Homo sapiens: one gene and its partners. The protein of the gene in region 1 purifies or fractionates together with the protein of each later gene. This does not show direct contact. Each region holds a gene or a part of one and is shown on either strand. Other genes may lie near its edges. The genes, in order: MTRF1L, HEMK1, ACAD9 and CHI3L1.

Region 1 (7,024 bases):
AGGATTCTAAGTAAATCAAATATTTAATAACAATCCTTAGAAGTATATACTTCTCTGGTAACCGAGGATCTATTTCAGTGGAAAATTAGTCATATTATTCCAAAATTGATTTCTTTGGTGTCATATATTGAAGGAATAAGTACACACCTGTTGGAAGATGAACTATCCGGACAGCACTGTCCGTGGTATTTACATGCTGCCCCCCAGCTCCACTGGCTCGCTTAGTGTCAATTCTCAAATCTTTCGGATTAATCACCAGATTAATCTATACAGAAGAAAAGTTGGGATTTTAAAAGATTACATGTATCAACTTTATAAAGGCAAGAGCGACCCATTTATGAATATACAACATGTACAGAATTCATATATTTGGGAGGTTTAATTTTAAGACTAGAGAGTAGCTAGAAGGATACCATTTTAAAACTTTTTTGCTTTTTGGAAGAGTAGGGAATCGAAATAGTACAGGACTGTACAGTTTTGAAAAACAAATCCTTTCTAGTCCTCAAAAACCTGGCTTCCCTTTATCCATTTCTTACCACAGAAACAGCAGAACTTGATACTATTCTGCCTACTTTTAGAACTGAATGTTTAAGGTTTTTTCAAATTTTTCTGAGTTTAAAGAGCCTAGCAGCAGGAAAAAAAAATGGTAGCGTGAGAACTGTGGGAAGGGTCTGTTTTGTTTTATTTCAAACATATTTGGAGGCAAAGATGAGCCAAATGGAAATGGGAGTGGCCAAGAAGTCATGAGTCTCAATTCCTCAACACACTGGGATCTGAGGTCAAGGTAATGCTTTGTCCTAGGAGCCACCATCAAAAGCACTGTTTCATGAACAACTAAGAACCATTCTGTGACATCTCTGCAATGCTGACAGTAAGAATCCTACCATTCTCTGGGCCTTCTACCTCTATGTCTCCCTGTGTTGACTCCCTCTTATGGTTGCTAGAGGAATTAGATGATACATGGACCTCAGTCTCTCATCTTTTCCTGAAAACTTCCACCCCAAGATGGTTAAACATAAGTGACTAGGTTTCTAGATGTGGCTCTTGCCATTTATTCTACTTTACTCTCTCCCTTAACTGCTTAGTTTCTCACCTATGCTTCACACAAAAATTAGATCTAAAGAAACTAAGACCTAAAGAAAGGAACTCCATTAAACCTATTACAGAGCCAAATAGCACTTTTTCCCAAAATTAGCATAGGAACCACTAAGAGTTCCTTCTCAAAGCATTCACACTTCATTCTGAAAAACAAGTCAGATATCTGCTATCACTTTTCAGTAGAAGGGAAATGAGGCAAAACAGAACTCCTACACTAAGTTATCTTAAAAATATAGACTGAGAATTTGCTTTGTGAGAATAAAGTATACTCATTATGAACAGTATAACAATATACTTTCATTTTAATGTAACTGGGTTATGAAGCAGCAATTCTGTTAAGTAATTACCTTTGTTAAATAGGATTGTTGCTGTTAATACCCCACAAACCAGTCACACAAGGCAGAAGTCATTATAAAGGCAACCAGTCCATATTTAAATAGGTTATTATTTCACCCACAGAGATGATCTCACAATAACTACTTATTAGGAAAATACTAATACACAGACAATGCAACATTGTATCATTTACAAATCCTTAATTTTTTAGCATTATAAAATTATATTTTTTAGACTGAGATAATATGCAACTCAAAATACACAAGGAAGACCAAATAGATACTCAATTCAGTAAACTCTGAATGTTAACTCTGGGGACAAGGCACTGTGCTAGGCCCGGGATTCCAAGGAGAGGGGCTTATGCCTTACCTCAGTAGGCTGGGGTAATATTGCTACAGTCATGGTGCTAGTATGGACGCGGCCTTGCTTTTCTGTCTTTGGCACTCTTTGTACTCTGTGAACACCTCCTTCAAATTTCATGTGCCTATAGGCTTCTGAACCCCCAATGCTGGCAGATGCATGTCTAAGGCCACCTTGAAAATACAGGGAAATAGAATTATTTTTATTATTCCTGCCATTTATAAATAATTGACCATCACATCTACTATCTTGAGGTATATTTTTAAAGTCATAAAAGGAGATGAACATGGAGACTGTAAAACATATTAAAATATTCAATGTTTTAATATTTATCTTTACTGCTTACAAGTACTAAACAAAGCATTTATGGGGCTAATCAGTTGACATCAGTAACACATCTAAGACTACTTTTAAAGACTGTTAGCAATTTGATGGTTAGTATTATTGAAAGACTCTCCATTAGATTTTATAGGTCATCTCAAAATTACTGTATGTGCATTCAAATTTATTAGGTAAATGATGAGCATAAAACTACATAAGCATCCTCACAGATAAGTTCTAAAGCCTAGTCATGGTCTTTCCAACTCTTTTCCTAAACACTTTACCTGAAACAAAATGAATAGTTTACTGACCTAGTTCACTTGGAAAATATTCCAGGGTTTCAAAATGCCATCTTTTAAATGCAGCATATTGCTGATACATATCAAATATCTCTGATGTAAACAACATTGCCTCCTGACCTCCAACTCCTGCAGTTACTTCCAGGATCAAATCATTTTCATCTGTTTCTTCTGAGGGAACCAAAAGTAAGATAATCTGTAAATATAAAAATATCACCCCTCCTATAATTAAGATTTAAAATTTATCAAAAAATAAAAAGCTAAATGATTCAGGAATTTTAAATATTTAAGTTTCGCCAAGCAAATAATGTAATATTGCTGAGTACTGTTCAACCACCTTGCCAATTAGAACTGTATAATGTGTAACTTCCATAAAGTATTAATGTTACAACCATATTATAAATGCTGTTAAGATTCAGCTAAAATTTCAGGCTTGTTTTATTGTCTGTTGGAGTTCTTGTATGCTTTGTATCAGTTCTCTCTTCAGTTAATAAGAACTAAGTACTTGCTCTGATTCGGAGATTATACTGTTGTGGAAAGCAAAAGAAGATTCTAGATCCATCCTCTTGAAAATTAAGGCCTAGTATGGCAGAAAACCAAAAGCACTCAAAACTACATTTGTATTATTTTAAGATTTCTTATTATGGAAGAGAAACTTGTAATTTTGAAACTAAAAAGGCCCTTAGAGATTATCTGGTCCAATTCTTTAATTATACATGTAAAGGAAACAGAGCTTAACAGAGATTAAATGACTTGTTTAAGGGCAAAGTGTTAGTTACTGGCCAAGCAGGCACAAGAACACAAACCTTTGTGCCTAGATCAGTCTTCCCTCCATTACAATAGTGTGTTTCTAATCAAGGGGATCTAGAACAAACACTTCTTAGATTAGGTCAATTAATAAGAAAAGCTACCAACATTTTATTGGTTCTTTAATATATGGCAGGCATTCTAAGCACTGTACATACTGTAATTCTTAAAACAATCTTGGGTAAGTATTATTAACAGTTCTACCTTAAGATGTGAAACTAATTTTACAGGGGTTGAATAATCTAGTGGCTCAACATTACCCAACTCAAAAGTTAAGTGGAAGAGCTAGAATTGAACCTGAATATACCTGAGTACACTGCTATCACACTTGACATTGGTCAGAAGCTATGCTAGTTACTACTTTTCCATCTCTCTAGCCTATGCCAATACAACATTATCATTCAAATTTTGAACAAATAATGGATTTTACTTCTGTTTGTTGATTACTAGACACTGAACAGAAACATTTAATACACATATCCTTCTTATTCACACAAAATTTAATTTAGAAAATGGGTAAAATGCGAGCTATACTACACTTTTCACCTTATAGTGGAATTCTCCCCCTCTAACATAGGTTATAGGAACATTAATTTTTAGTAATTTTCACATTTGCCTAAAGGGGAAGCAGATTCTCAAAAATAAGTACCCCCTTTCCTGGCTCCTTCCTTACCTAACATATTCTTTCACTTATCCCCAACGGTAATTGCTGTCAACCTTTAGTCTCTGCTTTACAGAATTAGCAAAGAGTGGCTCTAATTTCATATAATTATTCTTCATTAACTCTATATGTTCTGTAATTCACAAAGATGTACAACCAAAGCAATGTAATCCAATTCTTAAAATCGTGAGGGCTTACTCTAGGTCTGGTATTCCAAATAGTGTCAGAGATGCAAAATAAGTATTCCTGGCCCTGAGGAGCTCACAGTCTACTATCACTCTAACAGGGGACTTCAAGAAGTTGTATTTCAAAGTTATTTTGTAACAAAATAAACTCGTGCTAACTTGTTATAACAAGTCACAGGCTCTAGTTTGAGGTACTAAAAAGGGTATCAGTTTGCAAAGAGCCCCATCAGAGCAATATGAACTCTGTTAAATTGAAGCAAGAACAAACATTAAATTGCTGGTGAAGCTTGGGTGGAAGAATGGTGAAATCATTGATGCTTTATGAAAAGTTTATGGGGATGATGCCCTGAAGAAATCAGCAGTTTACAAATGGATAACTCATTTTAAGTAGAGACAAGATGATGTTGAAGAAGAAGTCCACAGTGGCAGACCATCTGCATCAATTTGTGAGGAAAAAAATTATCTTATTCATGCCCTAATTGAAGAAGACTGATGATTAACAGAAGAAACAATAGTCAAACCACAGACATCTCAACTGGTTCAGCTTATAAAATTCTGACAAAAAAATTAAAGGTGAGCAAACTTTCCACTGGATGGGTGCCAGAACCTTTGCATGCAGATCAGCTGGAGGCAAGAGCAGAGCTTTCAATAGAAATTTTAAACAAATTGGATCAAGATCCTAAAGCATTTCTTTGAATTATAACCAGAAGTGAAACATGGCTTTACCAGTATGATCCTGGAGACAAAGTACAATCAAAACAATGGCCACCAAGAGGTGGAAGGGGTCGAGTCAAAGCAAAAGCAGACTGGCTAGGGGCAAAAGTCATGGCAATAGTCTTTTTGGGGATTCTCAAGGCACCTTGCTTATTGACATTCTAGGGGCCAAAGAACAGTATCTGCTTACTATGAGGGTTTTGAGAAAGCCAGAGTTTTAGCAAAATACCAGGGACAGCTTCACCAGAGTCCTCTCCTACACCAGTGCTCCTGCTCATTCCTCTCATCAAACAGGCAATTTTGAGAGCTTCAATGGGAAATCCATAGGCACTCATGTTACAGTCCTTATTTGGCTCCTCCTTTTTTTTGTTTCCTGATCTTAAAAACTTTGTAAAGGGTACCCATTGTTCTTTAGTTAATAATATAAAAAAGACTACATTGACATGGTTAAATTCCCAGGACCCTCAGTTCTTTAGGGATGCATTAAATGCTGGTATATCACCTTTTTGCTTACCAAAGTGTCTTGAACTTGATAGCTGGTGGCACTTATGTCAATAAATTAAAGTTTATATATATATTTTTTTATCTTTTAATTCCAGTTTTCCACAAACTTTTGAAGTCCTTTCATATAACCTCTTCTGCCCCATGTCTACCTCCAGTCTTCTTAAAAAAAAAAAAAAAAAAAAAGGGAAGATATGCCACTATTTCGCTGCCTTTCCAGAAAATACTATCACTGTGACATTTATCTTTCTGTGAGAGCGCTACAGTACTTTTAGTATGATGAAAACAGGACCATGTGAAGTTTGTTCTTTAAAAACCAGTTTATTGATAGTCATAATCATTTCAAAATGTATGCATATATCAAAACATCACATCATATACCTTAAATATATGCAATTTTGGGGGTCAATTTATACCTCAATAAATCTAGAAAATAAATTTAAAAAACCCAGTTTATTCTAAACAGTAACAAGCTAGTCACTTGTTTTTATAAACCTTTAATAAACTTTAATGCCTAAGAATAGCACAAATGCTTTATTCTTTGCAGAAATACCATACCTGATGCTTCAGCTGAGTTATTTCTTTTTGACACAAAGTGATTTCATTCTCTGCAAGTTTCCTTAAATCTTCATTCTCATCTAGGAAAAAAAGGGCAGAAGTTAAGGTTTTCCTTAATTAGTGTTAAATTGCTAGCAGACTTCTAGGAAATAGTTTTATGGTTATTATAGCTGAAGGGAAAAATAAAATGTATATCTTGTCCTTTCAATAAATACCATTCAATAAATGCCTTTCAATAAATGTCCTTTCAATCAATTTCACCATTTTATACATTAGTTTTCATAAGCATGTAAGTATAAAATTTTTTTTCTGATAAAGTACAAGTACAAATTTCTATAAAAATATAAAGAAGCTAAACTCTTCCATAATTTCATCTCCATGAAATATTCACCTTAATAAATATGCTTTTAGACTTCCAACTTAGACTGTATAATAACGAATGCATTTAGCTAATAAGACAGAAGGGATACAGAAGGTTACACCAGTAAAACTAAAATTCAATTAAAAAGTAGAAATTTATTCTCTTATAAGCAAATGTTTCATTAGTATTTTAGTATCCACCCAAAAACATTTATTAGATTCTGCCTAATGTATACAGAATGTTTATACGAAGTACTCCTCTGTCTCTCTCTCTGGCTTTACCTTTATTGTTGTTTCATCTTTGAATTTTCATTTTTACCTTATAAAACATACTTTCTCATTCCTCTACCCTATAGATGATATGCAGCATATATAAAGGAGGAGGAAAGGGAAAATTTCTGGCTATTAACAAATTGTTCTCTCTATTGAAAGTTCAAACCCTTACAAAGCATCAGTTTGTATGCTTATCTATTAAGAAACAACCATGCTGGGAAGTGGGATAATACATATATAAGACCTGCCCTCAAGAGAGCATTATAGATAATTTTAGTTTCCTTATATTTTTCTAGAAGAGAAAAACAAAAAATAACCTAAACCCTTATGTGACATGGTTTGGCTGTGTCCCCACCCAAATCTCATTTTGATTTGTAGCTCCCACAATTCCCACCTGTTGTGGGAGGGACCCAGTGAGAGGTAACTGAATCATGGGGGCAGATATTTCCTGTGCTGTTCTCATGATAGTGAATAAGTCTTACAAGATCTGATGGTTTTATAAAGAAGAGTTCCCCTGCACAAGTTATCTCTCTTGTCTGCTGCCATGTAAG
Region 2 (7,024 bases), on another chromosome or scaffold:
CTGCTCTGAGAGGTAGAGTGTTTGGGGAAGACCCCAGCCCCTGGGAAGGGGGCCACTTAGCCAGGCCTGCCTGCCACGGGGCATGGCTACTCTAAGCTGTCTCACCCTCCCCCTTTAGGCATAGCTGGGGCAGGTGGAGGTCAGCCCAGTTCAGGGCTTTCCATGAAGCTGAGGTAGGCTTCCCTGCCTTTCCCACTTTGTGAGCTGTAAAATTAGCCTTTCCTGACCATTTTCCTGCAGGACTGCTGTATGTGTGAGAGGTAGTCTTTGGAAGAAAAGGGGCCTCTAGAATTTGAAGCTTCTGATTTCTGGTTATGAGGCCAAAGATCCCAAAGGTCCTTCCAGACACCTCAGGAGGGCCCTGGGGGGCAGAGGCTGGGGGCTGTACAGCCAATTACCTCAGAGGGGAAGGCACCCACTCATTCCGCAAGCGGGGGAAATCCTGCTCTCCTCCCACAGCTACCAGAGCTTCAGATGGGACTCAGATCTGTCTGCACACCCAGGGCTACAGTTGGCCTAATGTGACTCTTACCTGCCCATAAACCTGGCCCAGAGGGCTTTATGGGCCAGAATCCCTGGGTTTAGTAGCTACATGGACAGCCATATGAGCACCACCTAATTGACTTAATTAACTAACCCCAGGCCTTTGGAAGCAATAGGAGATGAGAGCATCATACTGGGAGTCAGGAGTCAAGTGCTGTGTTACTTCAAGTAAGCCCCATCCCTCTCTGGGAAAAAAGATCAGGGATTGAATATAAGTCTTGCCATGATCCACCCCTTCCAGTATAAACAGGCCCTCCTGGCTTCATCCAAAGCGTATCCAGGTGATTTGGGGCCAAGCTGACCCTTGAACCCAGGTGTCCATGCTCTCTGTCCCCCAGCTTCTCAGCTCTGAAACCCAGCATGAGGCCCATGTCTGGCCTCCCAGTAGCTCTCCATGTGGCTCCTGGGTTAGGACTGGCTTCAGGAGCCCCAAGCCTTGGCTGGGTGGGATGGTGTCTCCAGAGTCCTTTAGTACCCCTGGAAAGGGAGGTCCTAGTCCCAGCTTGGACAGGGACAGGGCTGAGGGCACCAGTTGGCCAATTCAGTTTTAGGAACCAGGAGGTTGAGAACCCCAGGGATAGCCCCACTCCACCATAGGAACAGAATGGTGACACAGCTCTGCTCAGGCCTATGGCTTACATGGAGGGGCCAGGCCCATTAGCTCAAAGTCAGGGGCTGCTGTGCTCATTTCACAGATGCAGTACCTGCAACCCAGAGAGTACAGGGCCCCTGCTCATCCTCACACACCCAAGGGGTCCTGGGCCAGTCACATAACTCCACAGGAGAGCAGGAACAGGCTTGGTCCCAGTCTCTGAGGTCCTCTCTGGACCCAGTCTCTGGAGATGGGCCATGGAGGCCAGCCTTGCACTTTCTCCCCACATCCCAGTCCCATTCCTCACCCACTCCCTTCTGGGACCCATGCTGGTCAGTCTTTCAGTCTTCTCACTCTGGGAAAGGGCCACCTCTCTCCAAATATGAGTAAAAAAAGGGGGGGCCTGGGCAGTTTAGGTCTGAAGGTTGAGGAAGAGTTCCCCTGGCCACATCACCTATCAGAAGAGAGGTGGTTAAGGCAATTTATCATGACTCTCAAAATTCTTCCAGCCTCTGCCCATTTCCACGTTGCAATTCCAAAGCCACTTCAATCAGTAGGCGTGTGTTACAGCAGCACTCTAATTTGGGCACCACAATCTATATTCGTTTCCCGTGGCTGCTGTAACAAATTATCACACATGTGTTTTCACACATGTGAAAACAACACAAATTTATGATCTTACTGTTCTGGAGGTCAGCAATCTGAAATCAGTTTCACAGGGCTTAAAATCAAGGTATTGGCAGGACTGCATTCTTCTTGAGGCCCCAGAGGAGAAGAGGCTGTCTGCATTCCTCGGCTCATGGCTCTTCCTCCAGCAATTGCATCACTCTGACCTCTGCTTCCATTGTTACATACATTTTCTTCCGTCACTCTGACACTCCTGCCTCCTTTACAGAGGCCCTTGTGATTATACTCAGTTTACCTGAAAAATCCAGGATACTCCTTCCATCTCAAGATCCTTAATCACATCTGCAAAGTCCATTTTGCTATGTGAAGGTAATATAGTCACATGTTAAGGTTTAGGTGATTAAGACACTGCCATTTTGGGGGGTCACTGTTCAGCCTACCAGAGCAGGGGTAGAGTTGCTTTGACAGTCCCAAATCCAGTTCAGGGGGCTTGTCCAGGGCAGAAGGTCATGAGGAGGAGATCAGGTCACTGTCCTAGCCAGGACTCTGGCTGGGGGCTGGCTGAAGCCAAGAGCTCCAGGAAACCTGGCGCCTGCTCCTACTGCCGCCAAGGACAGCCTGTTCTCCTGGTGTGGCTGTTGCGCAGGGATCAGGTGCACTTGAGTCTTCGAAGTGGCCATTGCTCAACTTGAATGGCTGCCTGGGTCGGGCAGAAGGCCAGGTCCTCATGGCTTCCCATCCCTAATGACCGGAATACATGGGCTGCCAGGTCAGATGTGGGCCACATGGGAAGTCCCAGCTCTATTCTAGAAAATGCATGTACCATCAGCTTACTGATAGACATTTACTGAACTTGGGTATGCCAGATCCACAGGGGGCCCCAGAGATGAGGGGGATAAGAAGGTTTCTGAAGGCATGGTACAGAAGGTGCCAGCAGAGGTATGGGCTAGGGGAGGCAGGGAGAGCACAGAGCAGGCATCCTAAAGGAGGCAGCATTTGTGTTGGAGCTTGAAGAAGTGGATTGTTTGCACCGCCTGGGCAAAGGGAAGGTGTGTGTTCAGGGCATCGAGAGTACTGCACAAAGGCTGAAGCCCAGGGCAGTAGAGAAGAGAATCCACTAAGAAGGAGCCAATGAAGAAAAAAAAGAGAAAAGAATCGAAGGTGGATAGGGAAAGACATGCTGTCCCGCAGAGGTTAAAGGGGTTCTCACCTCAAGCCAGCAGTTCTCAAACCTTGTCAGCAGTGGAGCCCTTTGTTCTGATGACAGCCTACTCAGAGCACTGATGGGGCCTTGGGAGGGGCCCCCAGGGCTTTTCCCACAGTTGTCCTCCCCCACCTCTTCAGAACTGGATTCCATAGGACACAAGAGAACACACTTAAGTCATGGGGAGCCAGCTAAGTGTTTGGGGCAAGGATTGGGAGCAGCCAATAGCCCAGGGTCCAGGTGGGGGTAAAGGAGCAAAAAAGAGTATTTTTTGCATTTAGGGGGTTCGGGGCCTATTTCAATAAGGCAGCTGTATGAGACCCATGGAGAAACCCACTGACAACTGGGAAAAGCATCCAACTGTGAGACAAGGCCTCAGTTTCCCCAACTATCAGAAGAGGAGATAGAATTACTCTCCCAGAGTACATCAAACAGGGACTCCTACACTCCTGTCTATGCTCTGGGCTCTGGCTGAAGGAGGCTGCACGGGCAGTGGGCACATCTCTCAAGACCTCAGGGGCTTGCACAGCCTGGACTCCATCAGCTCCATGTCCTCCTCCCATTCTGCCTGCAAGTGCTCCTTGACATATGCTGGTGGTGGTGGGGAGGCTGTTCGAGTCTCTGGCTTTGGCCTCAGGAGCAAGGGAGGGGATAGGGCAGGTGGGCCTGGCTTTCCCTGAGCTAGAGCCACTGGCTGCCCTGGCCTGGGCCTCAAGGCACTGGGGCCATAGTGAGGAGAGGCTGAGGGGAGATGTAGGCTGCCAGGCTACCAGCCTGCTGGCTCCATCTCTAGACAACAGTGAGGAGTCAAGAGCCCAAGACTGAAACTCCTGCCTTCCCTTCTTTCCAGACTGCCTTGTATCCCTGCCTGCCTTATGTTGGTCCCATGCATCAGATGGACGCCTGAGGGCACTGGGTCCTTCCTCCCTGTGTCTGCCCTCCGAGGAAGGCAAGGAAAAATGCCACAATGTGCCAAGCCAGGCACATCCCATGGGCTCCTCACATGCATCCTATAAAATAAAGCATTAAGTCCCATTTCTCAGCCTTAGAAGCCAAGGCTGAGTGAGGTGAAGTCATCTGCCCAAGGTCACATCCTCGTGAGGGGCAGATTCTGGGATTGAAATCCAGGCTGGTGTGGCTCCAACATCTGGGCTCAACGTCCAGGGCCCAATCAAGCCAGTGGCTGCAGGCTTGAGGCCCCGCCTGCCAGTCCTCTTGGCTTGGACCTTTTCCTCAGCAGAGTCAAGCTGCACATTTTTCTGGGCAGAAAGTTGTGCCCGAGGCCGGCTCCTGCTTGTGGCCCCAGCTGCCCCGACAGTGTCACTCTCCAACACTGCACTCTCTTCTGGTGCAACATCCACAAGCTCGCCAAGGCCCTTCCTCAGGAATGGGCCTGAGGCCAGGAGGGAGAGACCATCAGGGAAGCCAGGACTGGCTGAGGTGTAGGGGGGCGACAGACTGCTCCGAGGTCAGGGCAGCTACCCTGAGATGCTGCTGAAGACAGCAAGAGCCAAAGGGCACAAGGAGAAAGACAGAAAGGGCAATACTGGTGAGGACCTTAGCAGGCAAAGGTCTGTGAGCATGGGGGACTAAGGAAGTGGGGAGCCTTGCCCTGGTTGTGCACCCCCTTCGCCCTCCCCACCCAGGTTCCTTCTGGAGCAGCCTCCTTAAAGGAAGCCAGGGGCAGCTCAGAGTCCATGCAGCTGGGGCTGGGCACAGGGCAGGACACTGGGGCACTGGGAGCTGCAGTGTGACCTCTACCAAATGTGTCCTCCAGCCATAGTGCAGGGCAACACTTAGGCTGGGTATGACTCCAGCAATATAGGCTCCCCAAAGGGAGGGATCTAACTTACTGTCTCCACTTGGTCACTGTCATGTGACCTCAGGCAGTACATACCTTCTCTTGCTCTCCATGCCTGGCGAATGGACATTCAGATGCCAGCATGCACATTCCACTTGACTAAGAGTAAAGAGGTTGCCAGTTGGCGTTGGCCCTGGACTCAGAAGAGCCAGCTTCTCATAGGGAAAGGAGTTGCCCAAGGTCCCACTGCAGGACACAGCCCTGGAACTCAGCTCTCCCAGCTGCAGCAGAGGATGCTGCCTATTGGACCATACTGCCCATCAGACCATACTGCCAGGCCCTGGGAAGTGCCAGGGTGGCAGGGGGCAGTCTAGTGGAATGAGACAGCCTGGTTTGCCATGTTTCTTAGGACCCACCCTGATGTAGGCTCACATCACCAGCACTCACCAACCTAGAGATTTCCTGTCGCTGTTGACAGGAAGGCTGGATCTGCAGGCCTCCTGGTGGCCATGAGTCTGCACAGACCAGAGCTGGGGTGGAGGCCACAACCCTGTGCCCAGTATCTCAGCTTCTCACTCTCCCCAGCCCCAACCAGGGACACATGGGTTATTTGAAACCCCAGGGGGTCAACTCGGGAGGGATGTTTTAGCTAAAAGCTATGGGGATAAAAAGGAAACACCCCTCACTGGCTCAAGCCTTCAGTTAAATGAACGTGGATGTGCGACCCAGGAACTGTGCAGCAAAGACCTCCAGACCCTCCCCTCCAGAAAGCAGGCAGTCATCCTTGAGCCAAAACGCAGATGAGCTTCCTGTGCTCGAGCCAGGCTTGGCCAGGGAATTGTGTACGCATGCACCCAGGGCAGTGGAGGACTAATCAATCCCTGGGAGTGAGCTGCTCTATGCCAGGACCCATGGTATCCAAGGCCAGGAGTGAGGACTCACGTGCCTTCCTCCACACTGCACCCCCACACCACTACCAAGCAGGGGACTGACGGCCAGCCCTGCTGGGGCAGAAGGAAACCCTTGCCCCAGTGCTACCTGGGAGTAAGGGGGTCAGGGGACCTGCAAGTCATGGACAAAACATTAGGTCACCATTTGTTAGTCTCTCAATACTTTACTGGCCATATCCCCCGATACCCCCACAGCAATTTCACCAACACAGAGCAACTGCCCTCAGCCACTCTGATGTGATGGAGCCAATCCAGGTGTCCTAGAAATATCCTAGAAATGCAGAGCATGGGGAAATCACAGAACCCTGGGAAATGCCATAAGAACCTGGGCTCTGGAAAGTGCCATCCACCTCCCCTCTGGTCAGGCTGGCGGCACTGACAAGGCATCCACAGGGCAGCCATGCTATGGCCCAGACCTCCGGATATGCAGGAACCGGGGCCTGAGGAGACAGGGACAGGGGCTGGTTACCACCTGGGCCTCAGGGAATGAACAGGAAGTGGGAACAGCACACTCTCCTGACAGCCAGGGCTGAGGATGGCCCCAGTGGAAAGACCAGCATGCTACAGGGCTAAAGGGGGCTAGGATCTTACCTCCCACAGAAGTCCCTGCGCACAGCCACAAGATTAAGGTACAGGTCAGGCCGGCTCTGAAGCCAGCTGCTGACAAGCTCCGGGTGCCTTGGGTCCACTTCTAAGAAGATACTACTACATGGGGGAGAAATGGGTGGGCTCAGCAGGACAGGTCTGGCGCCTGCCCTTCTGGGCTGCTTGGGCTGGCGAGGTGAGGGTCCTGTGCTGACCTCTGCCAGGGCCTGCCCAGTACACATTAGGAGCAGAGGAGCCTGCTGGGGACAGACCTAGGAGACCCATCCCATTCATACCCAGAGTCTTTCAGGAGCCGGGGTGCCAAGGCCAGAATGTGGGTAATGATGTCCATGCCCTCCTCCCCACCATCCAGGGCCGCGGGGTCTTCATAGCTGAAAGGCAAAGCAGTGGGAGGTGACAGCCTGAGAAAGGGGTATCTGAAATGCATGGAGGGCATGGGCAAGGCCTCCATGAATGGGGCCCTGTGGAACTTACACTCTGGGCTGAAGGGCAAATCTGAGGACCCAGAGAAGGAGGGCCCCAAATGGGTGGCAGCTCCTCTTCTCTTCCTCCCATGGGCAGCACCCTACCAGGCAGCGCCAGGCATGCTTGCTGAATCCCACTGGCTGATGGCCTCTCTTGATGCACTGACTCATGTCAGGGCATGAGTGTCTCCCCACAGGCTGCTCCTCTTCTTGGTCTGGGAGATCTGGGGCTAGCCC
Region 3 (7,024 bases), on another chromosome or scaffold:
ACAAGGCCTGGCACAGGAGTCACCCCGTCTTGGGTTCTAATTCCAGCCCTGATCCAACAGCCTTTCCCCAACAGCAAGTGACTCAACATCTCTGACCCTGTTTCCTCTGAAAGGCAGATGTCACAATCCTGGTATCTGCAGGTGCTCTGGAAAGTGCAGGCAGAGATCCTGGTATACAGTGGGTCCTCAGAGACTGCACCCGCCTCCCTCCAGCACAGCGGGCAATGTGCAGGGTCTGTCCCTTGCTGGGGGTAGGGGCACTGGGATCAGGAACCCCTGTCACTCACCCCCTCTTCTCTCAGTCAGGAAGAAGAAAGGGAACAGCCCCATCTCCTGAGCAGCACAGACCCTCCCACGGCCACCGCATGGTGAACCTGCACAGCCTCCCCCACACCCGACCACACCCTCCTCAACAATCAACTTCATTAAAGTGCAGCAGGACAGATGGCAGCAGCCAGGCCCTGTGTGAGGCTGGGCTGGGCTCACCTCGTGGTCGTGGTTGCGGAGCCCAATGCGGATGGAGCGGCTGGCCCGCGACAGCACGGCCGTCATGCCATACAGGTTGATGAGGATGTTGGCCACCCGCTTCAGTACCAGCTGCTCCTCCATGATGGTCTGGGATCACAGAGGCTCCAAGTGGGGACTCACTACCTAGACCAGTCCCCCACATGGTCCCTCCCTGGGCTGCATCTTTGCCTGTCTTAGTCTCCTGTGTTCCTTGAGAAAGTGGAGTCAATAACACCTTTCTCTTCAGGTTGTGGGAGAACGGCTCCCAGCCACCTTCTGTTTTCCCTTCTCTTTGAGCTCTAGATTCAGGGAGGGGTTAAGGCAAGACCAGGTCCCAGAAGCTTGGCTGAGACCAGAAGCCAGTGCTTACTGTGCTACTGCCACCTTCAGCAGCAAGGGCCCCACCAATCAGGTCCCTAGATTCAGGCCCCAGGTGGAGCTGCCCTCCCGATTCTAGGGAGCCTCTCTACCTGAAAGGTGCACAGAAAAACACTGCAGAAAACTCACCCAGCAAGGGTACCCATCCGAGTAGCTAAGTGGGCCCCAGGCTGACAAAGTCAGCCTGACCTCACCACCCCATCCCTCCAGGGTGATCAACATTTCTGTTCTAGGCCTGGTCCCAAAGGATGCTTGACAAAAAGTAGTCTCATGAATGCTGGCCAAATTGGAGGACCGCTTGCGACCCAGGCCTGGGAGGGCCTGGTTACCTTGCCAAAGCGGAGCAGCAGTGTCTCCACGGTCCGGCCGAAGCAGTAGGTGTTCTCCTCAAACTTGTTGGCACTGTCCTATTAACCAAGACAGGACTCAGTTCAGCACCTCATCCCTACAGTGCCCTGTCCTGTCTCACAGCCCGGGTACCAGGCAGAGATGCCCCATCTGGGGGAAGCAATCCAGGGTGTCATGGACTAGCTGGTGTTCCCCAACTTCCCCTGGAGAAGCCCAGACCCCCCACAGTGAGATCTTTTCTGCCACAAGGAGATCTGGCAGGAGGGCATTGAAATAGGGGGTATGCCTGTTAGGCCCACTCACCGCAAGACTGGGGTGCACAACTCCATGGTTGCCTGTCAGCCCCAGGTCCACAGTTCGGCCCAGGGAGTCCCGAAGCCTCCGGCCAACGGTATCCATGACTGTGCTCACTTTGGCCTGTTTAAGCTCACTGCAGAAAGTCCATGGTCCTGTGACTGGAGGCCTCGCTGCTGGCGCTCACTGTCCAGCAACATGGCCCATTCGGCACCCAGAAGCTCCGTGCCCCCCTCTGGCCTGGGTATGCTGGGCCCCTGGCTACAGCCTGAACCCCCCCAAACCCACCACCTGCCAGAGAGCAGCCAGTCTCCTCAGGGGAGCCACACATATGCTCCCCCATGAGGGGTGGAGTCACAGCCAGCTTCCCAGCAGCTGTCTCCTGTGAAGGAGACAAAATGCTACTAGCAACCTGTACTTGGCCTCCAGCAGTGATTTTGGATTACTGTGCCCCTAGGGTGGGGGTGGAGGGGAGCATGAGGGGAAGAAGGGCAGAGAAGAGAAACACTGGCTTATGTTGGCTGTGAGGCCTGGCACCTTTAAAGGGACACCTCTCATTCTTCAGGTTCTGAAAAACCAGCTGCCTCTAGTGTGAGGGACCAGATGGGGGATACGGTATTTATGCTGAAGCTGTAGGGTGCTGTGGCCATAAGGGCAGGGCAGCGAGGGCTTCCCTGGGCAGCAAGCCCCCCACTACCACAGGGGAAGGTCCCCTCCACAAGGCTGCGCCACACCCCCATGCCCCCACTCCAGGTCAAGGCAGCTCTTTCCTCCCACTGCCCTGGACTGGCCCCTGCTGGGCAGGTATGGGACCTGAGAAGCACACGGTGACAATGGCACCTACTGGATCCTGGTAGTCAGGATGCGGCCGGCATGCTGCAGACCCGTCAGGGCGATGTACATCCGGAGAATCTCATTGGTTCCCTGTGGTCAGTAGTGTAGAGGTCAAAGGCTGCCCCCCGGCCAGGCAGCCATGGTAGTGCCACGTGTGCTGGGTAGAGCCGGCCACTGCCTGCTTGCCCATTGCCACAAAAGCCACTGCTCCTGAAGTAGCTGGGAGCAGGGCTCTGGCCAGGGCTCAGGGAGTGCACAGGGATGAGGAGGGAGGTGACCAGATGGCCATGAGCTCCCACTGGGACCCCCCCACCTCTCCGTGACCAGCCTCACGTGTGTCAAGCCTTTCTCCAAGTCTCCAGGTCCTCTGTAAAATGGAAACCAGCTTTCCCCGGGTGGTGAGGGGTGCTGATGCCTGGGGCTCAGCCAGTGCCAGACAGACATTGCTGGCTCCAGGTGGAGGCCAGATTCCTCACGGAAGCCAGAAATTGCTGAGTGGCAGCTAGAACCTCCTCAGTGCCAGGTGTCAACACACCCAGAGGGCCACATGCTCCCCACTCCCCCAACCCATGATTCTGATCAGTGAGAGGCCAGTGGGCTTCTGCCCACTCTGCACAATGGTACTGTGTGTCAGGTGCAGGGGCCTGACCCAGGCTACACAGCCAGCACTAGGGACTGAGGACTGTCCCCTGCAGTCAGGCTGACATCACGGACAGCAGGACTCCCTACAGGAAAAGGGGGGACTGCAGGGGCCTCCTGGCAGGACCACCCAGCTCCGAGCAGGCTCCAGACAGGAGCTCTCACCCTACATCGAGAGCCCTGTGTTCTTCCAAGGCCTTGAGGGCTTCCTGAACCCTGCTGACCACCCCAGCCCTGGAGAACCCCAACCCTCCCAGGCTAAGGGAAGGGCCTTTGGAGAAGACCCTTTGCAGGGCTGAGACCACTCCAGTGCCCTCAGGCTGGCCCTTGCCCCGTATGTCCACTGCAACAGTGGAGATGGCTGGAACCCAATGGGTAGGCCAGGAACAAAAGCAGCCAAGGAGGCCTCCCACTGGGCAGGACGGCCCAGGAGACAAGACTACACTCCCAGAGGCTGATGATGCCTCTCATCACCAGACCTGCTGCTCAGGCCCAAACCCTCTCCCTGTCTCAGGCCTGCCTCCTGTATACCCATGCCCACCATCATATCCCACTCATCCTGCTGTGCTCTCTTAGGTCCAGCCCCTCCCTCCCAGCAGGAGAGCCCCTGGTCTCCGGCCTCATCCCTGCAACTCACTCTCCACATGAGCCCCGTCCACATGTCCAGCACTTGCTGAGCCCCTGGGGGCATTTCCCACAACACAGATACAACCAAATAATGCCCTGCTTAAAGACGTTTTGTGGCTTCCAAATTCCTCTGCTGTCAATCAAGGTCCTCCACAGTCTGGCTACTTTTTTAGCCTTCCCATATACCTTCTTCAACACCCCCAAACCCACTGCCTGCCCCAGCCCACCTAGCAGGGCTGACTGCTGCTCCCAGAAAGCCCTTCACTCTCTCTTCATTCACCTTGTGCCAGCAGATCAGTCCCATCTGGGCCTGGCGCGCTCTATTACCCTGCCCTTAGGGACAAACTGCCCTCCACCCGGCCCTGGTTGAAGCCCTTTCTTTCTGCCCCTAGGGGCCAGGAGCGCATGCTTCACAAAACTCTGGCTGCCTCTGGAGGATGCCCGCTCCCTGCCTCTTTACACTCTGTCATCTCCCTTGGTCGGCCCTGCTGCACAATCAGAACACAGCATCCGAAGTCATCTCTGTGGCCCCAGTTCCCTCCCCTGCCACCTGGCACATGCTAACTGAACTGACTCCTCAGGCTTGTGACTTCATGGAGGGCAGCAGTCGGGAAGGAGACGTGCCAGGGCTAGGAGAGCCCCTGAGAGCATGCGACCCAGCCCTGGGCTGCGGGGGCCTCTGCGAGGCCCTGAGCAGCATCTTTAGGACCAGGCAGGGTGGGGGTGGAGCACAGCTTAGCTGGTGGCGGGGCCACTCACCTCGAAGATGAGGAGGATGCGGGTGTCACGCAGTATGCGCTCGTACGGATAGTCCCTTGTGTAGCCCAAGCCCCCGAGGATCTGCAGCGCCTCACTCACACACTGCCAGGCGGCCTCGGAGCTGAACACCTGTGGGGTGTCACACTGAATCCTTTCCAAAAGGAGGACCTACGCTGCAGGGAGCTGGGTGGCTGGGGAGGCATGGGAGGCACACGGGCTTGGGGAGGAGATCGGCCAGGGAGGAACTTGAGGGGTGATGTGGTCAAGTCCTTTGCCTTCCGTGACCACACTGGCCAGCTTGTGTTCCCTACCCCACCATGACCTTCTGTACCTCTGGGCCTGCCTTCACCCTATCTGCACCTGGCTGAGCTCCTGTTCCTTTAAAACCCACCTAAGATCTCCCCTTCCCGAGAAAACCTGACCTGTTCCTGCCAAGCCCCAGCGGCCGTGATTTCTTTCTGTCTGTGCACACTATAAGTGCCTTGGGGGCAAACATACTGCCATGTTTAGCCCTAGGCTTAGCATCTGGAAGAGGCTGGCCTACAGCAAACTAATGTCTGTGGTCACTGTTCAAGGGTGACAAGAAAACGAGATGATAAAACACATGCAAATGCACCCAGTACACAGACTGCACCTAGAAAAGACTCAAACACGGTCCAAGATGCCCAGCCTTTTTGTTTTTAATTTTTTATTTTTTTAGGGACCTTGCCACTTCAGGATCCCAACCTTTTAGGTAGACTCTCCTGCCGACACCAGGATGTTTGCTTCTGTAAGCTGCCATACCTCTCACTATTTCTCTCAAGAGCTCAATTCCAGAGACCAGCTTAAAAACAATTGTGGGGGGCACAAAGTAGGGTCCCCCCAAGTGTGGCCATCTTTTTTATTACAGCTAAAAAATGACACCCTCCACCCTCAACAAAACAAAAGCAAATTCTAGTATCTACCTTAACCAAATAAGATGCTCTTCCCACCTCAGCCTCCCAGGTAGCAGGGACTATAGGCGTGTGCCACCATGCCAGCTAATTTTTGTATTTTTTGTAGAGATGGGGTTTCGCCATGTTGCCCAGGCTCATACATGTTTTTTGTTTTTTGTTTTTTTTTGAGATGGAGTTTTGCTCTTGTTGCCTAGGCTGGTGTGCAATGGCACAACCTCGGCTCACTGCAACCTCCGCCCCCACCGGGTTCAAGTGATTCTCTTGCCTCAGCTTCCCAAGTAGCTGGGGTTACAGGTGCCCGCCACTATGCCCGGCTAATTTTTTGTGTTTTTAGTAGAGATGGGGTTTTACCATGTTGGCCAGGCTGGTCTCGAACTCCAGACCTCAGGTGATCCATCCACCTCGGCCCCCCAAAGTGCTGGGATTACAGGTGTGAGCCACCGCGCCCTGCCATATGCTTAGTTTTTAAGATAAAGTTTTGATACCAGAAAGTAGGAAGGCCATAAACTAAGGAAAAAAGAAGTCTTTCTCACACAAGCCAGATGCAATGTTATTACTCTAAAAGGATATTATCATAACGGTCTCCTTCTGCTATAAACTACTGATCCACTGGCCCACTGGACACTTCCCTACTGCTGCTCCCCGCTGCCTGCCTATCCCTGGAGTGCTACACAGGGCAAGTGCATCATAAATACTGGATCAATGACAGGAGGAAGATGACAGGCAACAGCATGGGCTTGAAAGGTCACAGTGAGGGAGATTTCCCAAGCCTCCCTCCAGCGCCAGCTCTCTGGCTATGCCAGGGTTACCTTCACCATGGCTGCCTCGATGGAGCAGTCGGGAAAGCCAGGTTGGTCCAGCATCCCTGCTGTGAGGTAGGTCATACTCTCCATGACGTAAGCCTTCTGAGCCATCAGTGCAAATTTCTCCTGGAGTGTTCAGAAAAAACACAAGAAACAATTTGCATGTGCTGAGAGCCAAATCTGTGAAACAGGAGAGAAAGTAATTAAGTCAGAAGCCTCAATGCCCAAGAGAAGCAAGCCCAGTGACCCGTGTCAAATAAAGCCTTAACTAGTCTTCTTCCCAAATCACCACAGAAGTCACCAGTACAGAGACATCAAAAGAACACACCGTTCATGTCACACAGTGAAATGCACAAATACAGTACTCAACCATTGGTACCTGAATCAATCCAAATTCACTGAGCCTCTTGTTAAACTGTTTCCTTGTGCAGGCGTACTCAGCAGTCATTTCTGAGGAAGAGCAGAGTTATTAGAATGAACTGGAATATTTCTGTGGTTCAAACATGATTTCCTATGGCCATCATCCTTACCCTTCCCACAGGTGGGCACTGTGAGAAGCGTGTCTGCTGAGGTCAAATACCCCAGAAGCTGGCACCCCCACTTGCCAGCACCCGTGGGTCAGAGGAGAACCACCCCTCCTCATGGCACCCACACACAGAGTTTGGCATCAGATACAGACTTGAATCCTGGCAATGGTTCTTACAGGCTGTGCCTCAGGCCGAGTGCGACACCTCCCTGAACACCACCCCCACCTCAGAGTCGCTGTGAAGATGCAACCAGGTGGAAGGGGGAGGGCGCCTCGCACAAAGCCAGGCACAGAGGCCCCAGACAGAGGTGGTGCAGGCTCACACCCCGTGCAGTGACCAAAGCAGGTGGGGCCGCCTGGCTTGAATACTCAGG
Region 4 (6,856 bases), on another chromosome or scaffold:
CAGCCCATCAAAGCCATGGGTGCGCAGAAATGGCGGTACTGACTTGATGAAAGTCCGGCGACTCTGGGTGTTGGAGGCTATCTTGGAAAATCTAGGACCAAAATCAGCCCTGTAGCATGCTCAGCACTGATATGCTAGGTGCCTTGGGCCTCTGGTGGGGTTTCCAGGACCTGCAGAGCTGGGATCCTGAGGCCACACAGCTCTGGGAGGGCATGATTGGGACAGGGGTCGCCTCCAGGCATGCATGTGCCTTAGAGCCAGGCATTCCAGGTTTCCAAGTCTGGCTCTATCACTTACTAGCCAGCCACTGTGAAAGGTTATAACCTGAGTCTCAGTTTCATCATCTGTAAAATGGGGACAAATATAACAGCTCACCTTGCTGTTGTGAGGACAACATGGGATCATGGGGAGACAGGGTGCTGGACACAGAAAGAGTACCCAGCACATGGGTGCCAACGATGGCCATAACCACCCCCATTTCAAGCCCTGCTCCAACCCCACCTAATCCAAAGACTCCTCCCAGGGTCTCCCCACTTCTCAATGTCCCCATTGGTTTCCATCTCTCTCTTTCCAGCCCTAATGGTGGTAGCCCCAGAAGTCCCATATTTTCGGGCCTGTGAGGTAGTAAATAGAGCATTGGCAGGGAATTGGGAGATCCACTGTTAACTTGCTGTGTGACTCTTGGCAAGTCCTGCTCTCTCTCTGGGCTCTGCTTTCTTTGCTACACATCAGGCAGGCCCTTGACAAACAGGTAGGCCTTGTACCTATCTAGTCTGGAGCCCCTGGAACATCCATACAGTGGATGCGGGAGACCCAAGCTCCTCACTCCTATGCCATCATCCTCTGCCGTCCTGCCCCTGGGGAGAGGCTCCTACCTTTGAGACCCAAAGTTCCATCCTCCGACAGACAAGAGAGTCTTCAGGTTGGGGTTCCTGTGGAGCACAGGGAGGTGGGGAGGGCAGGAGTGGAATGACATTGTCATGACACTGGGTGGCCCCATGTCTGAGAGGCCATAGAAGGTTTCCTGCTTTGGGTGAGAGGCTGGGTTAGGCCGCTGATGTCCTCCCATAGGACATCATGGGAATCCCATAGAGATTCATAGTGGTGGATCTCTGAGGGGTCACAGGCTTCATGGGAGTTACTCTGAGGTCTGCTGCCCATTTTTGTTTTCCCCAGTGGAGAAGACAGAGTATGGCAAAGTAGAGTCTTGCTCATTTTCCATGCTCCCTGGAGAGCACGTTAGGGGCAGGAGAGGGTTCCCCTCTCCCAGAGGGGCTCAGCTGCGCTTCCGTCTACAGTCTCTCATCACCCCAAATATTGCCCAGCACCTACAGTCATCCCCTCCACCCATTTAAGCCAAGCCCCTCTAACTCTCCAAACATAGGTGAGCAGGGTGGGGCCTCGCCCTTCCTCCTGGGTGGGGTTGCCCTGCCCTGGGACCAGCCCAGCTGGTCCCTCCTCTCCTGGCCAGCCCTGGCCCAACCTGTTCTTGAGTGTGTTGAGCATGCCGTAGAGCGTCACATCATTCCACTCCCAGGTGTCGATGTGATCGTTGCTTATATTGGCAAAGCTGTAGATGATGTGGGTACAGAGGAAGCGGTCAAGGGCATCTGGGAAGCAGCTCCCATCGCCTTCCCGGTACTGGGACCAGCTGGTGTAGTAGCAGACCAGTTTGTATGCAGAGCCTGAAGGAGAAGTCTGGGATGGGGCCCGGGCCAGGATTCGGCAAGAGACCTCAGGCTGAGCCCAGAGCTGAGCACCAATGGGGTGTGGGGTTGGGTAGGGAGGAGTGGGGTGCAGATTGTGAGCAAAGTCAGAATTCTTAAATGAAAGGAGCTGGTTCAGGTCCCCCTGCCTCTGGGGAGTTCCCTGACTGGTGAAAATAAGGCCTATTCTGAAAATGCTTAGAAAAGATCCAATGCAGGGGATGAATACGCTACAGGCACTGTGTGGGGGAAGGGTAGGAGCTGGGGAATAAGGATGAAATGGGACTTGGTGCCAGCACAGCAGGCTTCCTGGAAGCAGTGGCTTTGTGGGAGGGGAAGGCCCAAGATAGCCTGTGTCACAGATGGCCCTGGCTTTCAGGCTGGCACCTTTAGTGACCTGCAGTGAGGTCCTTCATCCATGAGGGACTCTGGCCCACCTTTCTCTGCCTCCTGGTGAGAGTGCCTCTAACTTGTAACCCACCCGGAATGGCAGTCCTGTGCTCCCTCGGCATGTCCCCCAGGCTGGGGCACAATATCACAATGGACCAGGAAATCCTTCCTCGCCTCTAATTCTGTTTCTCCTGCTGCAAACAATGTGGGCATCACTCATCCAAGCAGCTACTGGGCAACTGTACTAGCGGCTCCCAGGGGCTGTTAGTCAAAGCCTTCACTGAACCAGGACCTTTTAAAGTTTCTTATTTTGAGAATTTTCACATATACCAAAGAGTATAGCAAAATAAACATCCATATACTCCTCACTCCAGTTTAGCAAACGTGACTATTTCGAAGTCATTGGAAGCACAGAAGAACCTGGCAAAGTGTTCCCTTGGAGCTAAGACCTCCTCCACACCTGCCCTGTGCCCTCGCCACGCCTCTGGACTTAAAAGTGGAGGTGGAGGGATTACTCACAGCACTGGAGCAGCACCAGGACCACAAAGCCTGAAGAGAAATCCAGGATGAGACCCCTGCAAGTGCATCCTGCCCTTCCGCCCTGCTCCCTCCCCCAAGCAACTGAGACCCACCTCCCCCACCCCCACCTCCTGGTTGCAGCCTCAGTCCCTCCCCTGGCTCTGCTTCTCCTCCCCCTCTGCCCACTCCCTTAGTCCCTCACCCAGCAGGCAGATGGCTCTGCGGGCTGTCTGGGCCTGAAAACCCACAACTCTGATGGATTAACCTTGGCTAGCCCAGATACCTGTTTGAGACGCCTTCACACCCATTCTGGCTGCAGCAGAGCAGGGCAGGGTGTGGCCTCTTCCCTTGCCCACGGCTCCTGGTGCCAGCTACCTAGACAGGGCCTCTTCCCCAGGCCCTGTACTTCCTTTATATACCTGTCCCACTCCACTCCCCGACGCGGCAAACCAGCCCTTTTATGGGAACTGAGCTATGTGTCAATGAAGGAATCACGAGGCTGGCAAGTGGAGGCGGGGGAGTACTATGGATTACCAGAGGAGGGTTGAGAAACCGCAGAGTTTTGAAAACTTTGGGTCAGGTCTTCATGAGGCACCTGCCAGCAGAAGAGCCACTAGGGTGATGATGGGGGGCTTCTGGAGATGTGACTCAGCCGCATTTCCCAGCCTTCCTCCCACTCCTGCACCCCACCACTGGCCTTTCTTGCCAGCAATTTCCTGGCTTTTCTGGCAGCCTCTACCTTTGCATCTTCAGCATTCACTCCAGGCCCCTGGCCAGGTGGAAACTGGGCACAATTTAGTTACGTAAGCCACAGTGCCCTAAACAAGGCTGTTGTTTTCTTCCCAGGCTCAGCATTGCCCTGCTTGACCTACCTTCCTACCCTCCCCCTCACACTTTCTGTCTTCAGGCTGGGTAAGGGCCAGAGAGCCTCGGGAGGAAGGAAAGCAAAGAGCCTGAAACTGAGCGCTCCCTTTTGGGCCCGTGTCTTTTTTTTTTTTTTTTTTTTTTTTTTTGCAATTTACATGCTGATTATTTAGAGGGAAAGACAGGGAAATTCCCAAGAATGCTTTAAGCCCCGGTGCTATTTTGCTTCTGTTTTGAAATTCCCATAAAGAGAGAGGATCTTTTGCAAGCTCGGTGCTGCAGTGAGGCACCATGGAGGAAATACAGGCCCTACGGGGCGGCTGCACGAGCATCTGACATCAGTCAGCTCCCCAACTCTCTCAGTGAGGCTTTGGAACCCAAGCCTGATGATACAGCCCCTCTCTAAATCCTTCAGTGATCTCTCATCACTCCTAGGACAAGAACAAAACTTCTTAACGAGGCTCCCTGCCTGATTACGTCCCTGTTTGTGGATACATTTTTTTTTTGGCCAAATATCCAGGACAACTCCATTCTTTGCAGGCTTAACATTAATTAATAGGCAGTGAGTGAAAAGTTCAGAACTCCAAGAGGCAGAATGGGTCCAAGGGCTTCTCAAGAAAGTACCTTTATTTTTCACTAATGTTAGGTAATACTCTAATTTTTCCAGGCTGGTTTTGCAGCTCTCTCGGTGAGGTCTCTCTGCTCTCTCCCTCTTCTCTCCCTCTCTCCCTTTCTCTTCCTTTAAAACTCAGCCAGTGCCTTCCCTTCATTGTAAGAGAGGTGGACAAAAAGTGGCTTGTCCAGAATCACGCTCGGTGAATACTAAAGAGGCATCACTTTTCCTTTTTAAGATGACTGCCTCCTTTTGTACCCAAGATGATTGACAGCAATGACAGTCAATGATAGCTTCTTCTGGTTCATTTGGGGCACTGAGAGGAGGACTTCTAATTTCTAATAGTGATATTATGAAGTGGCATGCAGATGCAAAATTTTTCATCACAGAGCACAGGATGTTAAGAAAACACCTCCTATTTTCACTATCTCCCTTTGTTAAAAATTATTTCATAGGCTTAGATTGGCCCAAGCCTTGTTGTCCTATGCTCCCTCAAGCTCAGTTTATTAATTCCACATGCTCTGCCTGAAGGCAGCTTTGTAACAACAAATGGCCAAGATACCCCCAGGCCTGTGTTAGCAGGATTGGCCAAGGGTCTCATAGGCTCACCACCTCCCAGCCTTATCTCAGGCCATGACCCCCACCCTCCCTATATTCCACTCATGCTTATATGTCTTCTTTTAAATCCTTATATTTGCTCTACTGACTCCCGCCACAGGGCCTTTATATATGACATCCACTTGCCTGTAAATAACGATGAAAGATCTGAGATTTTATGCTACTTGCAAATTAATGACATAACTACAGTTTCGTGGATGTTGGCAGAAGACACGAGACTCCTAGGTCAGAGACAAAGGACTTTATTATCCATGGTACAGCAAGCAGCATGAACTTCATGTTAGGGTCAGTTCCCCTTAGCCCTCAGGTCTCACAAGGGCAGTGTTGGAGGAGCCCAGGTAGATGCCATGAATGCAATGAGTTACATCACAGCAGAGGAATCCCTAGTTTAAGGAACTCAAATCTTTCATGATGAGCAGTAAGCCTTCCTCACCTTGGCCAGCCCAAGATAAGGGAGACATTATCTTTATTACTGGACAGTAAACAAATCTGCCTTTTGGTCTGGAGGGGGGACGCTATTTCTATCTTCCAAGGCTGTTTGCTGTACAAACATCACTAAAAAGATTGCCTAGAACAAAGAAGCCAGTGCCTCTGCACATAAGCTGTGCAGGAAATGCAGGCAACCCATGGAGAATTGCGGTTGGAGAATTGCGGATGGAGAATTGCAGCCTAACACTGCTCTTCTTTGACTGCTTTATTCTTCCTCATCCTTCAGATTGCAGCTCAGGAGTCACCTTGTCTGCAGAAAAGGCAGTCTCCAGGTGACAGAAAACCCGCTATAGGGCTGTCAGAGCACTTTGTACCTCTCTCCTTAACACCTGACTCAGTTATAATTTTATATGTTGTGTGTGGCAGTGGATGTTTTGTTTGCCTCTCTCACTAGACTATAAACTCAGTAAAGGCAACGGCTGGGTCATTTTATCCACCTTTGTATCTATCCCCAGTGCTTGAGACATAGTAGATGCTCAGTAAAGTACTCGTTGAATAAATGAACAAATGATCTCAAAATGGTGCATAACTTCACACTCTTATGAGTTTAAACCCTGATGTTCTCAAAATTTCATCTCATTCAATAGTTTTTGTTACCCTGTGAAGAACTGACTCAGGAGGTGCCATAAAACCACAAAACAAGCTTCCTGACTTAATTTCCCTAATCAAACATTTCTAGGCCCCACAGTACATTGATAGTGTTCAACCAATGTTTATTAAGTAAGTGTACTAGAGTAGTTGCCTTCCACTGAGGTAGACAGTAGAGACAGAAAGGTGAATGGGAACAGAGAGGCAGTCCCTGTCCTCATGAAGCATACAGTCTGGCAAAGAAGATGGACATTAAACAAAGAAAAGCAAGTAATGTATTACGAAGGAAGGGCAGGTGTTAGTCTGCCCCTTGCCCACCGTCCCCTACACACAAAAAAAATTGTGCAAAAACCTGGAGCAGGAAGAGGTTGTTATGTTCAGGAACCAGAAGAATTCAAGAGTGGTTGAGGCATGGAATTAGCAGGAGGGAGCTCGAGGGAGGCACAAGATGAGTCTGGATCAGGAGCCAGAGGGTGGACATTACCACCATTCAGAAAACAAGCTCCTGGGAGCCTGGGCTGGCCCCTTGGGCACAGTGGTTTTGAGGATTCCTTCATTTTGCATGGCGTGTCAGAGCAAACAGAGGTGGTGTTGATGCCCCACCAAATGCTTGAGGAGAATTCTCTCTTTTACAAGTAGTCTCTTCCTCCAGAGGGTGGACTTCTGCCAGGCAGGAATTCAAATCATCTCCAAATCCTCAGCTCGGTGGTGGTGCTGGCGCACAGTAGAAGCTGTCGAAGACTCAGAGGCAGAAACACTTAGAGAAGAAAACAGTTGCTTGTGAAAAGCGGAAGCGAGTCAGATTTCAGAATGGCTGGCTCGTCAAATGCAAAATGCAACAAGTATTTGAAGGGGAAAAAAAAATGACCCAAGGTTATCACGTTTGGTGGAGATCAGCATCATTTTTACAACACATCTTCACTTATCAGCATAGCAAAAATCAGGGATGAAATTGTTTTTTTCGGGGAATTTTTTTTCTTTTTGAGACAGAGTCTCACTCTGTCACCCAGGCTGGAGTGCAGTGGCGTGATCTGGGCTCACTGCAGCTTCGACCTTCTGGGCTCAAGCC

The links.
Region 2: the proteins of MTRF1L (region 1) and HEMK1 purify together in Homo sapiens (affinity purification with mass spectrometry; 3 studies listed by BioGRID and IntAct, with this or other methods). This does not show direct contact.
Region 3: the proteins of MTRF1L (region 1) and ACAD9 purify together in Homo sapiens (affinity purification with mass spectrometry; 2 studies listed by BioGRID and IntAct, with this or other methods). This does not show direct contact.
Region 4: the proteins of MTRF1L (region 1) and CHI3L1 purify together in Homo sapiens (affinity purification with mass spectrometry; 3 studies listed by BioGRID and IntAct, with this or other methods). This does not show direct contact.

The regions. Positions count from the first base shown.
Region 1 is NC_000006.12:152,992,710-152,999,733, forward strand, and holds part of MTRF1L (peptide chain release factor 1-like, mitochondrial), read right to left. Parts: intron 5,927-7,024; exon of another isoform or gene 5,921-5,926; coding exon 5,841-5,920; coding exon of another isoform or gene 5,817-5,840; exon of another isoform or gene 5,584-5,816; intron 5,445-5,583; exon of another isoform or gene 5,296-5,444; intron 2,611-5,295; coding exon 2,427-2,610; intron 1,968-2,426; coding exon 1,804-1,967; intron 266-1,803; coding exon 148-265; intron 1-147. UniProt on the Homo sapiens protein: Mitochondrial peptide chain release factor that directs the termination of translation in response to the peptide chain termination codons UAA and UAG.
Region 2 is NC_000003.12:50,579,514-50,586,537, reverse strand, and holds part of HEMK1 (MTRF1L release factor glutamine methyltransferase), read right to left. Parts: intron 6,695-7,024; coding exon 6,599-6,694; intron 6,423-6,598; coding exon 6,309-6,422; intron 6,158-6,308; coding exon 6,121-6,157; 3' UTR 4,927-6,120; coding exon of another isoform or gene 4,839-4,926; 3' UTR 4,461-4,838; coding exon of another isoform or gene 4,445-4,460; 3' UTR 2,504-4,444; coding exon of another isoform or gene 2,488-2,503; 3' UTR 1-2,487. UniProt on the Homo sapiens protein: N5-glutamine methyltransferase responsible for the methylation of the glutamine residue in the universally conserved GGQ motif of the mitochondrial translation release factors MTRF1, MTRF1L, MRPL58/ICT1 and MTRFR.
Region 3 is NC_000003.12:128,903,612-128,910,635, reverse strand, and holds part of ACAD9 (complex I assembly factor ACAD9, mitochondrial), read right to left. Parts: intron 6,575-7,024; coding exon 6,504-6,574; intron 6,251-6,503; coding exon 6,131-6,250; intron 4,516-6,130; coding exon 4,387-4,515; intron 2,452-4,386; coding exon 2,372-2,451; intron 1,664-2,371; coding exon 1,537-1,663; intron 1,293-1,536; coding exon 1,215-1,292; intron 764-1,214; exon of another isoform or gene 616-763; coding exon 487-615; exon of another isoform or gene 373-486; coding exon of another isoform or gene 303-372; intron 1-302. UniProt on the Homo sapiens protein: As part of the MCIA complex, primarily participates in the assembly of the mitochondrial complex I and therefore plays a role in oxidative phosphorylation.
Region 4 is NC_000001.11:203,183,701-203,190,556, forward strand, and holds the start of CHI3L1 (chitinase-3-like protein 1 precursor), read right to left. Parts: upstream 3,005-6,856; 5' UTR 2,924-3,004; coding exon 2,899-2,923; intron 2,646-2,898; coding exon 2,616-2,645; intron 1,686-2,615; coding exon 1,484-1,685; intron 933-1,483; coding exon 876-932; intron 110-875; coding exon of another isoform or gene 92-109; coding exon 1-91. UniProt on the Homo sapiens protein: Carbohydrate-binding lectin with a preference for chitin. Has no chitinase activity. May play a role in tissue remodeling and in the capacity of cells to respond to and cope with changes in their environment.